2 linked regions of the Homo sapiens genome follow. The protein of the gene in region 1 interacts with the protein of each later gene in a biochemical or structural test. Each region holds a gene or a part of one and is shown on either strand. Other genes may lie near its edges. The genes, in order: NEFM and DRD2.

Region 1 (8,120 bases):
CAAATTTCTACACTCCATATATATATAAATTTTAACCAAAAAAGTGAGTTAAGTATTCTAAAATAGATGCTCTTCTTAATAAGCTAAGTGACAAGACAGAGCTATGACAGTGAGCCCATTTTCAAAGGATTATGAAAGAATATTGATTTTCAAATTTGCAGAGATTGAAAAAAAATCACCCAGTCCTGGGACAATGAGACTGAATTATTAGGTGGGGCTTCTTTGTGACTTTCTGTTCCCAGGTTTAGCTCTTTTCAGAAATTTGGTCCAAAGATCATTGATCTGCTCTAGTTTTACGAAGCTCATTTTAATTAAGAGTTTCTAATAAAAGAATTATGTCTCTTGCTAAGTCAGGCCTTGGTAAGCTTGGGATAAAATATGTCATAAATATTTCATAGCTGCACTGGTGCAGTTACGTGCAAGGCAGGGTTTTCAAAATTCAAGTGCATATCATCAACATCTGTTGCTGCTTTATAGGTAAAGCTAATGGGTTCAGTTAAAAACATGCTGAAAATTAATACAGGAGTACTCTTTTATTATGCATCTACTGAACTTTATTTTTAGAGTCACTTTTACCAAGGCTCTATTAAGTACTTTTTTAAAATTCTAAATCTTTCTCCCCTGGCTTTCACAGAAAGGATTCACAGTGGAGAGGTGAAAGCATTACACAGCAAAAAAATCAGCAAGCTATGTTAAAGCCAAAAGCTAAATTTTCCCCCACCACACACATGAAATTTCCAGATATAGAATTTTAAAACTGATTAATTTAACATTTGGAATATAATAAAGATTAAATGTTTTAAGTTTTGTAAATACTTCAATTAACTTCATCATAACAGTAACTGACAAATAGAAGGCAATATTCAAAGAATAAAATATTTGGCAAGGGAAACAAACACCATTTCAGTGGCCTAATGACAGAAAAGGAACACTGTGGTCTAGATGGATTTGTTTTGATCAAAGACAATAGGGACATACATATACATCCCAATTTCCCTGACAAGAAACAGTCTTTCTCCCCTGAGAATATTTTTATTTTGCTTTCAACTCTTGACAACAACAAAATCAAAAGTCAACACTGCTTTTAAAGTTTGACATCCTGAGGATCAAGTAGAAATATGTAATATAGCTTCCTTTTTCTTGTGTTCCTGCTTCGGCAGACTAAGTCCCTAGCTTCCTACATCAACAACCCCTTAAACAATTAGCAGAGGACAGGTTATAAATAATTATTATGAGTTCTAGAACCAGATCCCAGGCAAACGGATTAAGTTCAAGACACAATAGGTTGAAAGAAAGTACAGATCATCTCATCTTGGATGGATTCAGCCTACCAATTTGAAAGTGACGTTGTCCATCTGGAGTATCTTTCTTGCTATCCAGTTCCTACATCCCATCCTCCTTGCATTTTTTTATATCCAAAAATGCTATTTAAAAGAAGAAATGTAAGGAAATAGGGAAAGATGGGAGAAAATGCCTAACTCCTTATTTTTTATCTTTATTTTATGACCCAGTAAATATACCACCTTTGCAAATGATATTTTCCCAGTATTAGATGACACCCTACAAAACCTGACAGTGGCTATCATCTCTTAGCTGCAAAGTTAACATTTTCACTTTCCCTACTGAAGGAACATATAGATTGGAGCATGCCTTGTATTTCTCTATAAAGTGATTCAAAACAGACTGTAGCTTATGAAACAACAATTCAGAGATAATTTCATTTAAAATGTCTTACATCTAAATCATATGAGAAACTTTTCTATTTAGAATAAATTACAAAAGTATCGTAGTCAAACTTAATTCCATGAATGCAGTGTGGTTAATCCGGGTGAGTTGCCATGATTGTTTTCTCTCTTTTTAATATTTTGAGAAGATTTCATAGCCTTAGTGTTCTTAGGGTTTAAAAAAATGCAAAAGCATTTCTTTCTGTGAAAACTATTAAGATGGTAAATATTCTTCAAAACTATGAGACAAAAAGGGAAAAACATCTTTTATAGCTTTTTAAAAAAAGTTTTCATACTAAATTTACTGATGGGTATAACCTTCAAATCACCTTTAGGAAGAGTAGTTAAAGTGGAAGAGTTTAATATAAAAGAAAACATTTTGCTAAATGTGAAACTGGATCCATCATTTTTTAAGCCATGGGAACTGTTTTTTCTTAATAAAACAACTGTTTTAATTCTTTGCATTATCCTGTAGTGCCCAGATTGAACAATATATCATGTGACATTGAAGTTACAATTTTAAGTTATAGGCACTAGATGTAGCCTGAGTAACTGACTTATTTTGTTTGTACGCAACACTTTCCTCCTTCTGTAACCAGCTGGAAGCTGAACAATTTCTCAGCTACTTCAGATACAAGGCAAAACTGGGTAATTGTGAAGTTAGACATGTGTTTCCTTGTAAATGTCTCTCTGCAGAGTCATCTCGTTTCCAAAGCCCTAAAGAAAATTAACAGCAGAAGGCTGCCGGTTAACCATGTACTCTCATTGCAGAGTTTGCAGTGAATGTGCACCATGAAATTGCCAAGGATTTTTATATATTTCAATAAAAGCAGAAAGTAATAAGCAACAAAGGCAAAATTACTGCATAATTAGCATTTGGCCTTATCTAGATGGTATCCTGCTGAGTCCAGCCTGACATCCGCAATACTTTACAGAAGGCAGGGAATTTTCTTTCTCCTTGCCTTTATTTATCTACATAAAACCAGAAAATCCTGTTTTTACAGTATTCACAAGTCAGTCCCCTCATTCCATCATCTGTCTCTCTCAACAACTCAAGACATGGATGGGCTCTGCTTGCCTAAGGTCTCTCAGCAAACTAGAACATCCTTCTCCTACATGGCCTGCGATACTGCAGTTTCATATTAATAAACCAAAGTAACTCCCAAAATTAGCACCTCCTGTTTAAAACATTATTTCTATTTTAATACAGATGGGCCAAGGGAGCTGATAAAAATAAAAAATAAAACCTCTAGAAACCCACCCCTTTCCTGATTACTTACTGATGAATATGATCCTGTCTTTTAATAAAACAGGGACTTAAGGAAACATGCTGTGAAAAGAAGCTATTTCGGTCTGGAGTCCCTACTTTTTATAAGCAGTAGTTTCTTCTCACCCATAGCAAGCGTTGCACATTCAGTCACTTGTACCTGTGGCCCCAGCGCTGTTGTTAGTTCTGCAATCTCTTCTTCACTTTATCTTGTAGTATTCTGAACTTTTTTAACCTGAATTACCCCCAAAGCACTACCCAAAATAAAGGGACATTTTAACAGGAGTACACCAGACAGCAAGAAGTCTGTGTAGAGTTCTTGTTTGCATAAACATGTTTAATGATATAGAAAATCTATTCCAAATCAATCATTAAAATCTAAAGCGAAAAATATATTACATTTTAAATGAAGGGAAAACATCTGATTTTATTCAAGGTTGTGGTGACTCTGTTCCGCAACTTTTAAATCAATTTAAAGTTAATTCAGATGCCTTTTCAATCATTGCAGTTACACATAGGGAATACTGAACCGAAAGATGACAAGGCAATTGTCTGTGTCCAAACTTAAGAAAAACTATATTTCCCTGGACTTTTCATCCCAACAGATTTCAAATTCTCCTTTCCAAGGAGTATTTGACCTTCACATTTCAGGCCCTGTATCTCTTCATTTCCTATACCACCATATGTTAGAAAACTCAAACTGGGCTACAAGTATATATTTCTGTTAACTGACTTTAATGAATTTTGGTTGTTTTCAAAATCTGCGATCTGTCCATTGTGCCAACCCTGCATTGCAGGGAAGTCTTAGCCTGTGATTCCAGCTTCGCTCCTGCAAAGATAGTCACTACAGGCAGGTTTAAATTGTATTTACTCGGAGAGAAGAGGGGGAAGGGAACCCCCTGCCCCCTGCCAACCTGACAGGCCAGGCTGGGTGACAAGCCCCCCGGGTGGCTGCACCTCCCACTCGCCGACCTGGGCGCTGTCCTTGGTGCTGCCGGCGCCATAGCGAGCACAAGCGCCTTACCTTCTGCCCCTGCGGAAGCTGCGGACGTCCCCCAAACGTTAAAAACGCCATATCCCACTTTTTATACAAATAACTACCCCGGCCTGTTCTCTTTGTCCCCTTCCCGAAGCCTTCAGGCAGACCGTTCCGCAAAGTCTTTTTTTTTGTTTTGTTTTGTCTTCTAGACCCAGCTCCTCGGCGCTCATCTCCAGCTGCTTTAAGACAAGGGGTGGGGGAAGGGGAGGGAGGCAAGAAAAGATGAGGGTGGGGGAGGGGAAAAGAGGGAATGCAAGGGGAAGGAGGGAGGAGACGGGGAGAAGGAAAGATTGGAAGAAAAGGATCTCCGAGGAAGGGGCTGAGAGAAGGGCAGGGTGAACTGGACTAAAGGCCAGAGTAGGAAGGAGAAGAGGGGCCAAAAAAGAAGGGGATGAAATTAAGCACAGAAGATGGGTAAAGAAAAAAGTATCAGGGAAAGGGCAAAATAAGAGAAAGCCTTGAGGATAAGAGGGTAGAAGGCTAAAGAACAAGGGGACCACGGGGTCGGGGAAGCGCTGCCTGAACGGCGGGACAGTGACAAAGAAAGGGCGCTGGCGATATTCGCACCAAGGGTGCGAAACGCAATCGGGAGGTGAGAAATGGAAAGAAGGCGAATGCCCGGCTACAAGTAGCCTGGGACTGAAAGGGGACCTGGGGGAGGGGCTGGGCCCAGGGCAGAAAAGTCCAGGTTCCCATGCGGCCTGGGCCCACGTGGAGCGGGCGCTGAATCACCGTTCAGCCGCCCCCCTCCCCTCCTCCCCGACCGGTGCCCGCAGTCCCCGCCTCCTCGGCCGCCGCCTCCACGGGGCGGGGCCCTGGCCCGGGACCAGCGCCGCGGCTATAAATGGGCTGCGGCGAGGCCGGCAGAACGCTGTGACAGCCACACGCCCCAAGGCCTCCAAGATGAGCTACACGTTGGACTCGCTGGGCAACCCGTCCGCCTACCGGCGGGTAACCGAGACCCGCTCGAGCTTCAGCCGCGTCAGCGGCTCCCCGTCCAGTGGCTTCCGCTCGCAGTCGTGGTCCCGCGGCTCGCCCAGCACCGTGTCCTCCTCCTATAAGCGCAGCATGCTCGCCCCGCGCCTCGCTTACAGCTCGGCCATGCTCAGCTCCGCCGAGAGCAGCCTTGACTTCAGCCAGTCCTCGTCCCTGCTCAACGGCGGCTCCGGACCCGGCGGCGACTACAAGCTGTCCCGCTCCAACGAGAAGGAGCAGCTGCAGGGGCTGAACGACCGCTTTGCCGGCTACATAGAGAAGGTGCACTACCTGGAGCAGCAGAATAAGGAGATTGAGGCGGAGATCCAGGCGCTGCGGCAGAAGCAGGCCTCGCACGCCCAGCTGGGCGACGCGTACGACCAGGAGATCCGCGAGCTGCGCGCCACCCTGGAGATGGTGAACCACGAGAAGGCTCAGGTGCAGCTGGACTCGGACCACCTGGAGGAAGACATCCACCGGCTCAAGGAGCGCTTTGAGGAGGAGGCGCGGTTGCGCGACGACACTGAGGCGGCCATCCGCGCGCTGCGCAAAGACATCGAGGAGGCGTCGCTGGTCAAGGTGGAGCTGGACAAGAAGGTGCAGTCGCTGCAGGATGAGGTGGCCTTCCTGCGGAGCAACCACGAGGAGGAGGTGGCCGACCTTCTGGCCCAGATCCAGGCATCGCACATCACGGTGGAGCGCAAAGACTACCTGAAGACAGACATCTCGACGGCGCTGAAGGAAATCCGCTCCCAGCTCGAAAGCCACTCAGACCAGAATATGCACCAGGCCGAAGAGTGGTTCAAATGCCGCTACGCCAAGCTCACCGAGGCGGCCGAGCAGAACAAGGAGGCCATCCGCTCCGCCAAGGAAGAGATCGCCGAGTACCGGCGCCAGCTGCAGTCCAAGAGCATCGAGCTAGAGTCGGTGCGCGGCACCAAGGAGTCCCTGGAGCGGCAGCTCAGCGACATCGAGGAGCGCCACAACCACGACCTCAGCAGCTACCAGGTAGGAACCGCGGCTGCGCGGCCAGCCTGCGCCAGCGCCAGCGCCGCGCGCCCCCGACACTTGGGCTCGTGCCCAGGCGCCCTCTCCGCCGCGCTCCCTGGTGGCCGCTCGCTAGAGCACGCGCGCCGCAGACCTAGGGTATTTGCGGATCAGCGTCCTCGCCCATCTCATCCTCCACACTCCGCCCCCACCCACCTGCCCCAGCTGCTAAGGGTCTTGACCTTTTTCAGAAACGTGCATCTTTTCCAGTTCTAATTTTGCACGCTTGCACGTTTAAAGCAGGAGGGATGAATTCGGTAGTGGATAAATCAGCAACTTTAGGATAGCTTATGCAGAAACGCGTGTATTCTCTACTTTTCCGGCAGTGATCGGAAGAGCTCTCAAAATTGGCTTCAGCCCAAAGGGCTCAGATGGGAATGGCCAGGTCAGCCATGGAGTTTCCCCATGCATGTTTGTGTCCTGTTGAGACGTGTTCTAAGTCCACTGGTCTCCGTGCGTGATGTGCCCAGGAAGTGTCCTATTGTCTTACTGATCTTGTATGTTCATTTGAGAATCGCTTAGATTTAAAAGAAAAAGGGGGTGGGACGGGGGGCTGGGAGTCAGGTGTCAGCGAGGTTTGCAGAAGTGGAGGGAGACGGGAGGAGGCCAGGGGGAAGGGGTAGCAAGTGGTTTGCGAAGGAAGTTGCTGTTTGCAAGGATGAGTCTGGGGAGATTCTCTGTGTCTGTTTCAGGACACCATCCAGCAGCTGGAAAATGAGCTTCGGGGCACAAAGTGGGAAATGGCTCGTCATTTGCGCGAATACCAGGACCTCCTCAACGTCAAGATGGCTCTGGATATAGAAATCGCTGCGTACAGGTACGATGCTTACTACGTGCGTGGCCGGAACACTAACCGCAGTGCAGAGGCTGTTCCGGCAGAGCTTCCACCACTTAAGTTAAAGCAGGCAGGGTGCAGGCATCAACTCAGCACCTGGTTATCTTGCTTACTTAAAAAGAAATTATTCTAAAGAATTGCAAGTGTAGTTTTATCTCTTTTTATGCAGCTTTAAAAGAATGAATACTAGTAGAAACAAAAGGTTTTTGAATTACACAAAGGAGGTGCAGATTAATCTCAATGCACATGCTTAAACTTTTTATGGAAAAATGTTTTCAAATGCTGGAAGCATGAACAGAGTTTTGGTTTCTAATATTTCATCTAGTGGTTTCAGCTTTTCAAATGTATAATGTCAAGGACAAACACCAGGACGTTCTATTTCTCTGTTTCTCTGTTATATAGCTTACTATTGCCATCATCTGGCTGAGAATAGATATAGAATGATAGAATATAGATATAGTTCTTTTATATATGTAGATAATTTATATGTATTATATTTTATGCTAGACTGTAGTATAAATTATATCAATATATCATGTATGATATTAATCTAGATCTATAGATACACATATGTGCATATGCATATAAATCTAGATATATAGACACAAATATATATGATCGTTTTATAGATAGTGAGATAGGTTATAGGTCTATTAACTGAAGTGACCTTGCTGTTGACTAAGCGCAAAGGACAAAATCGTTGATTAAAATTTTTCTGCTACCAATAAGGTAGTTATAATATAACGAGAATAAATTGCATTTACAGAGCTATCTCTCTTTTCAGGAAAGCTGAATAACTACATTAAATAGACACTTTATGATAAAAATTATCAACAAATTTATAACTCGATACACCTGAAAATCTAAACGTTTAAGAAAGTGACTACTCTCAGAAAGGCTGTTTGGCTTTGGAGTTTGGGGGCGTTTTGTTTATGGCTTTTTGTTTTTTTGTTTTTGTTTTTGTTTTTTGCTATTTGGCCACTAACAAGTTTTTCAGCATATTCATGTTGTACCTAATGGATCTCTACTGCAGGGCCAAGACTTAGTAGCTGGGTGTGGTTAGTGGACTATTGGGCAAGGTTAGTCATTGTAGGGGGCAACTGTCTGGCAGTCCAGGAGAATCTTTCTCTGTCACTGAGTATAATGTAATATGCCAGTAAGTGATAGCAGGTATTATAGTGAATTCATAGAATATTCTACTTATGTAATTCTATTTATTCAAAGGTAGCTACC
Region 2 (7,269 bases), on another chromosome or scaffold:
CAGTGCATCCAAGGCCACCTTTTCCACAGAGCCTTCTCTGCCCTGGTGGGTAAGAGGGCAAAGGATGAGTCCTTCAGAGGAAGCAGGAGCTGCAACAGGGGAGGTGGAGCAGTGGGGGCAACCTGGCTTCCCTTGGGTTAGACCCTGCAGACACAGGGGTCTTGCTATACTTGAATGCCAAGCACAGAAGTGGCACTGCTGCCTTCTACCCAGGGGTCCTGGAAGGTGACTCGTCAAAGTTTTATTAGTTTGGTGCATGGATAGTGATGTTACAGAGTCTAGGCCCCAGGGGCTCTCCCAAGCTGCAGCTTCCCCTCCTTCCTCAGGGCAGGGCCAGGCCAGGCCAGATGGTTTTCAGCAGCCTCTTAGCCGTGGGCTCCTCTAAGGCAGAGGCAGTGGAAGGGAAGGGAAACAGGAGAGAGGAAAGGCCAGAAGGAATAGAAAAGGAAAGTGGTTTTGCGTCAGAGTGTGGCAGAGGCAGTCCCTCAAAGAACCTCTGATGTCCCCTAGCCCAGGCCCAGATAGAGTTCCAGGGCCTGACCTCCCTGCCAGGCCCCAGGCTGGCCAGCATGTGCTGTGAGAAGGGATACATTGCAGGGCCGTCAGAAGGCAGCAGGGTGGGCTAGGCCAAGGAGTTCCTCTCCCCATAGACCCTCCTGGGCCCTTCAAGATGAGGGCTCCTCTTCTCAGAGCATGTGGAAACCACTTGGGGAGCTGTAACGGGGTGAGGTGGGTCCGGACTAGCCTGGAAAGTAGAGGTCCACATCGGGGTGCGGGAGGGAGCTAAGGTTTTTGGCTTGGGAATCTCTGGGGTCCAACCTGCAGTCTGGTATTTACATGGGTCTCCCAGGACTGAAGTTGCCTGGCTCCTCGGCAAGAGAGCTTGCTTGCCTCCTGTGGGCCTTGCAGGGTGTGAACTGTCCATCTCTCCCCACCGCCTGCTCCACGCCAAGCCCCACAAAGAGAAAACTCAGCCTCTGGGCCCTGACTCAGGCTCCAGCAACCCTAGAGCCCCAGAGGAAGGTCAAGGAAGGCGGCTGCATCTTTGGTGCCAAGGATAGGGGGACTGGAGGTGGGAGGGGGGACTCTATGAGCTGCCCCTGAGCTGGGGGGCCCAGCCCCAGGGCTGGTACCATGCCCAGCTCACTAGCACTGCCCTGGCAGAGTGAGGGTGTGCGGGCAGTGAGGAGCATGGAGCCAAGCGAACACTGCAGGGCCTGCCGGGGTGAAGAGGAGGCCGATCCACCCAGGCCTTCCTGCTCACGGTTCGCAAGGGTGAGGCTGGCCGGCCTGGGCAGGGAGGTGGGAAGCAGGCTGCTGTGCGGGCAGGCAGCAGAGTCAGCAGTGGAGGATCTTCAGGAAGGCCTTGCGGAACTCAATGTTGAAGGTGGTGTAGATGATGGGGTTCACGGCGCTGTTGACATAGCCCAGCCACGTGAAGGCGCTGTACAGGACAGGCGGGATGTTGCAGTCACAGTGTATGTTCAGGATGTGTGTGATGAAGAAGGGCAGCCAGCAGATGATGAACACGCCTGGGGGAGAGGGCATGGTCAGGCTGGTCCCCAGAGCCGGGGAGGCACGGCTGGGAACACCCACACCCAGTGCGCCCTGGCTCGTATGCCAAGACGGTGGGCTGTAGCCACAGAAGCACTGTAGGAGGAGTCCAGGTCTTGGATCCTAGACCTGCCTCTGACACCCATTTGCAGTGAAGTATCCCTTCAGCTCCTTCAGCCTCACTTCCCTCATTTGTCCCTTTCCCACCTCCTAGAAAAGGGTACATGGTTTAACAATAAATCCAAAAGGTTACCATTCTGACCCAGGTTAGCCAGTAGAAATGGAAATATCTACTCTACTTCCAGGTCATCTTTGAGGGCTATAGACCCATGCCACTTAGTTCTTATAGCATCCTCATAAGGTACATAAGAAAAACACTCACAACAGCTCTGCAATATACCCAAGGTCATTCACTCTTGAGCAGCGAGGCTGAGAGCTGAACTCCGGTCTATCCAGGTCCCCAGATGATCTCGCTCTAGCCTTCCCCCAATTTCCCCAGTCTTGGTGGGTACACCCTTGCTAGTCCCTGCCTTGAACCATGCCCTCTCACCCAGGGCAGCCACCTACCTGCTCTGCTCACCTAACTCAGGTGCACTTTTTCCAGGACCTCCTGCACAGGTGTGATATTTATCCTGGAAGCAATGTGTACATGGAATGCCCTACAGGCACAGGAGGCATCCCTGGAGACTGAATGGTGTCTGGGAAGAGTAGGGCCACAGAGCTGAGCCCCTATGGACTGCAGCAGAGGGCCTGGCTCCAATCCTAGCCTACCATATCCCAGTCCCATGATCGTGAGTAGTCCCATGGGATCAAGTGCTCTCATTCATAAAAGAAGGGAGGTAACAGCTGCCCCACTCACGCCCCAGGATCATCCGGCAGTCAAAGGGGATTCAGGTGCTTCCTGGAAGACAGAGTCACAGGGGACCCTCCTTTTCCCAGCCACCCATATCAGTCCACCTTTTGGGTTTTGACCTTTACTATGTGGTTTTCTAGACTTCTATTGAAAAATCCTGCTTTATGGACAGGGATGCTTTTCATTTAGATTGGGGGCCACTCCCCAACATCTCATTTATTTTTCACAGCTCTGGTCCCATGGAGTCTTGTTTGAGTGCAAGTGAACTGAATTTCCCAATTCCTCAAAAAGAGCAATAGTAATAAAAACCATAATAGTGACACTTACATATGGATAGTGCTTTGTAGTTTAGAAAATGCTTTCACCAACTGATTGCCATGACAGCCCTGAGAAGTAACCTACTCTACAGATGAGGAGCCTAGAGAGAGAAAGTGACTTTCCTGGGCACATAGGCCCATGAGGTTCTGGTGCCAGCATAATAGACTAGTCAAATTTCCAGACTCTGGAGTCAGACTGCCTGAGTTCAAACCATGGGTCCTCTTGGTCAGGTTTTATAACCACTCTAAAACTCTGTTTGCCCATCTGTAAAGTGAGCACAATTACAGAATCTACCTAATAGGGCTGTCTGTATGTCAATGGGCTTGGCCTGTGCCTGAGGAAATGCTAGCCCCATGATCCTGCAGCCATGGTTAGGAAGGACATGGCAGGGAATGGGACCTTTCACAGACCGGGCTGTGGCCAGCAGCCAGGGCCGACTCACCGAGAACAATGGCGAGCATCTGAGTGGCTTTCTTCTCCTTCTGCTGGGAGAGCTTCCTACGGCTCATGGTCTTGAGGGAGGTCCGGGTTTTGCCATTGGGCATGGTCTGGATCTCAAAGATCTTGGCAATCTTGGGGTGGTCTTTGGCATGCCCATTCTTCTCTGGTTTGGCGGGGCTGTCGGGAGTGCTGTGGAGACCATGGTGGGACGGGTCGGGGAGAGTCAGCTGGTGGTGGCTGGGTGGGATGGGGCTGTACCGGGTCCTCTCGGGTGGGCTGGTGCTGGAGAGCATCTCCATCTCCAGCTCCTGGGCTCGCCGGGCAGCCTCCTGCACCAGAGGCAGAGGGCTCTGGGTAAAGCCGGACAAGTTCCCAGGCATCAGCCACCCATCTCACTGGCCCCTCCCTTTCCCCCTCTGAAGACTCCTGCAAACACCACAGGGTCACCCTGCCAGGGAGGCAAGGATGTCACTGAGGCATGGGACCCAGGACCCATGGCAGCCCCTGCAGGATTGCCCCTGTCCTTTTTCCCATGGCAATCCTCATGCAGCCTCAATACCCCACTTCTGTTCTGCCAGGGCTGAATACCAGGGACTTGTCTCTCATGGCCTGAGCAACACTTACTGTTAGCAAAGTGCCAGGTGCCACAGTGGCTGCTGGGGTCAAGAGCTGATGATGTTTGGCCCTGCCTCCAGAAACTCATGTTCCGACTGCAAAGAGGGTGCCCACCCCTGTTCTCCCTGTCAAACAAGGGGCCCAGTGCTCCCACTTCATGGGTACCTGCACCTGCGTACACACGTGGGCTCCATATTCTCCTGGATAGACTAATCTAGGTGCCAAAAGGCTGACCCCTGGGGCCCCACATCTTCCCTGCTGGGGTGACCTAGAGAGCCCTGGCATGGATCCACTCATGGCCTCCTGGGTTCTTCCATAGGTTCTCTTGTTTGAGGCCTTGGAGGTGTTAGTCTGAACTTCTAAAGTGCAGCCTCACTATGTGCCTAGGTGGCATGACTGGGCTGCTGCCTTGGCCCTGACTCTGAGGCTCTGTTTTGGCACCTGCCTCATAAACAGCTTCTTAGAGTCCTGCCCTTGCAGTGCAGGTGAAGGCAGGACACCAGACCTGGATTTTGTATGCGGCCCTCTGTGGGTTCTCTGGCCCTGTTCTCCATCCCTCTGGAGGATGGAATGCCTGCTGCTTGCATGTTGGTACAGCTACCACCTGGCAGAGGCTGGGGTCTGCTGTGCTTCCGCACCTGAGGGCTCTATGTACACAAACTGCTCCGCCACCAGTCCCCGCAGCTGCTCTGCTGCGTCCTACCCCAGAACCTGCCCATCCATAAGGCAGCTCATGTCAGTGGAAAGAACACAGGTGTGGATTTCAGAGTCACACAGGTCTGGGCTTAGTGTCACCAACTCTTGAGACGGGTGAGTTGCCTAATCTTTCTGAGCCTGTTTCCTCTTCTGTCAACTGAAGATCGGTTCGATCAAAGAGACTTACCTCCCGGGGTCGTGGTGAGGATTTGATGAGATAATAGGGATATGGTAGATGTTTGAGAAATGTGAATAGCCATTATTATCATTTTTATTACGTTGGTATGGCCAACCATTTTCTCGTACACATCCATGCCTTGCAGAACCGAGGTGTCTCACTTCATGCCTGCTTGGAGGTGTGCACGGTGAGTCTGCCTTCAGCTGAGGCAAGGTGGGGGTTTCTGGGGTGCTTCTCCCATTGGCCAGCTTCTGAGGTCTCAGAACCATGGCCAGTGGGCTTCCCTAGGGGCAGAAAGACCTGGCTCTGGGTCCCTGGCCTGAGCACTTACCACTCTCCGCCTGTTCACTGGGAAACTCCCATTAGACTTCATGATAACGGTGCAGAGTTTCATGTCCTCGGGGTGAGTACAGTTGCCCTGTGGAGTGAGCCAGCACATGGGTCACACAAAGTGGTGGGGATGGAGGGGGGACAGAAACCCAAAGTGCAGCAGTCCATGGAACTCAGACTGGGCAGAAGGGCTCAGAGATCAGGAGGGTGGGGGCCAGAGGAGGCAGTTGGGGCAAGGGGGAAGGCTGGAATGAGACAAAAAGTGGTGGGTATGACGAGGAACACAAGGACCTGGTTTTTTATGGAGCACCTGCTAAGGGCCTGGCACTGTGCTAGGCACACTCACGTCCCTTCTCACGTGGAATCCTCAAGACCACCCTGTGAGGCTGGTATTTTGATTCCCATTTAACAGATGAGGAAACAGGCTCATAGAAGGTAAGCAACTTGCCTAAGGTCACTCAGCAAAAAAAGTGTCAGTGACAGGATCTGAACCTGATGCGTCTAGCCCAAGAGCTCTTGTTCCTTCTGTGCCCACACACTGTCTTCCTTGTGAAGGACTGAGTGAAGGGGAGAATTCACAAGACATCAGGGGGGAAATGAAAGAGAAGCACAGGAGAGACATAGTGGAGAGGAAGTCAGGAAAAGTGATGTGTGTTTGGAGGGGAGGACAGAGAGTACGGAAGGTAAAGGAAAGAGGATGGAGGAGTCAGAGGGAGCTAAAGTGAGACAGAGAAACCAGAAAAGAGGAAGAGAGGAGCCCACGGGGGTACCAAGCAAGAGTTGCCGCCTTCAGTCACAAAGATCTCCAAGCAAAGACTTCCCCTTGTTATTTAGTGTCATGGACCCTGCCTCCCTCTCCTGGAGACTCAGATTGCTCCACTGAGGTCCATGCCTTCAAAATCTGCCCTTGCCCGGCTCCTGGGAATTCCTTTAGCCTAGACCTAACCCTTGCTGAGGTTTCCCAAGCCCCCACCTGAGCATAAGATGAGCCCTCTTGGTAATGGTTAGGTGGGGACCCTTGGAGTTGGTTGGGGGGTGTCTTGAGACCTTTAGTGGAGCCCTCAGGTGGGCCCTGAAAGCTCGGCTGCTGCGTTTGGTGTTGACTCGCTTGCGGCGTCTGCGGAGGACAATGTAGATCTTGATGTAGACCAGCAGGGTGACAATGAAGGGCACGTAGAAGGAGACGATGGAGGAGTAGACCACGAAGGCCGGGTTGGCAATGATGCACTCGTTCTGGTCTGGGGGAGGGAGAGCCCGGGCAGGCAGGGAGTCAGCGGGCCCACCGGCCATAATTCCACAAGAGCCCATTCATGTCCTTCCAGGAACAAGGAGCGATTTTACAGAGAATATGAACGCAACTAGATGTTTAAGGCTGCCTGGTCATCTTAGATATACACAAACGCACAGCAGATACCAGAGTATTAAAAACACGGTTGTGAGCAAAAAGTTAAGCTGTGATGATGGACTGCTCCCAAGTCTTTCCATTACTATTCCCTCATTACTTGGTCATTAGTTTTGCCATGTCTGGGCATAACAAGTGAAGCCGATGTATCCAGAAAGAATGACACAAGAAAACTTTTAAAAGAGTAAACCATCTTTTTAGTCTGACCTGTGTATTGGGAGAGGTTGGCCACCTTTTAATGTTTGCAGCAAGATAACTTGGCTCTGTCTGTTGAACTCACTTGTGTTCCTATGTGTTTCATATGTTTGCGTGCCCTTCTAGGTCTACCAGACGCCTGTCCTCTATCTCAGGGCCTTGTGCATTAATCCAAGTATGTTTAGTGTTATTCCCACTTAGAATTCCTGTGATGCTTATAATAGATACCGAACCACACATTTTCAAGGCTTCACTGTATCTTTTGTTGTTACGATCTCCAGAGGTGCACACCTGCCATCGCTCTTGCCTCCCTGATGAGAGGAAGTTCCACGCTGGCGGGGGCTTTGTGTTGCCTCTGTCTGAGACACTCCTGACTCTGCCTCCCACAGAAATGGGCATGTGGTCAGCTTACCTCCTATTCACTTCTAGCTTTCCTGCTCCAGGTGGCTAAGGCCTGACCTGGGTTTAGCAGGCCCTGAGGGCTGCAGCTTCATTACAAAAATACTATTGTCAGGAGTGGATGGAAGCCCAGTAGCCTCCGCCATCCCATGTTCATGTGCACATATACACACATGCAGTTTGTGAAGCACGTCTTGCCTCTTCAACTTAATAACCAAAGTTGAAAATTCCCAGACATACCCCTGAACCATTATCCCCACTCCTCATCCAACTCCGTTGTGTCCTGGG

What was found.
Region 2: the proteins of NEFM (region 1) and DRD2 form a complex in vitro, tested with the Homo sapiens proteins (one study listed by BioGRID).

What each region holds. Positions count from the first base shown.
Region 1 is NC_000008.11:24,908,861-24,916,980, forward strand, and holds the start of NEFM (neurofilament medium polypeptide), read left to right. Parts: upstream 1-4,900; 5' UTR 4,901-4,933; coding exon 4,934-6,013; intron 6,014-6,126; exon of another isoform or gene 6,127-6,437; intron 6,438-6,744; coding exon 6,745-6,869; intron 6,870-8,120. UniProt on the Homo sapiens protein: Neurofilaments usually contain three intermediate filament proteins: NEFL, NEFM, and NEFH which are involved in the maintenance of neuronal caliber.
Region 2 is NC_000011.10:113,409,389-113,416,657, forward strand, and holds the end of DRD2 (D(2) dopamine receptor), read right to left. Parts: intron 6,224-7,269; coding exon 6,033-6,223; intron 5,074-6,032; coding exon 4,987-5,073; intron 3,496-4,986; coding exon 3,168-3,495; intron 1,533-3,167; coding exon 1,339-1,532; 3' UTR 217-1,338; downstream 1-216. UniProt on the Homo sapiens protein: Dopamine receptor whose activity is mediated by G proteins which inhibit adenylyl cyclase. Positively regulates postnatal regression of retinal hyaloid vessels via suppression of VEGFR2/KDR activity, downstream of OPN5.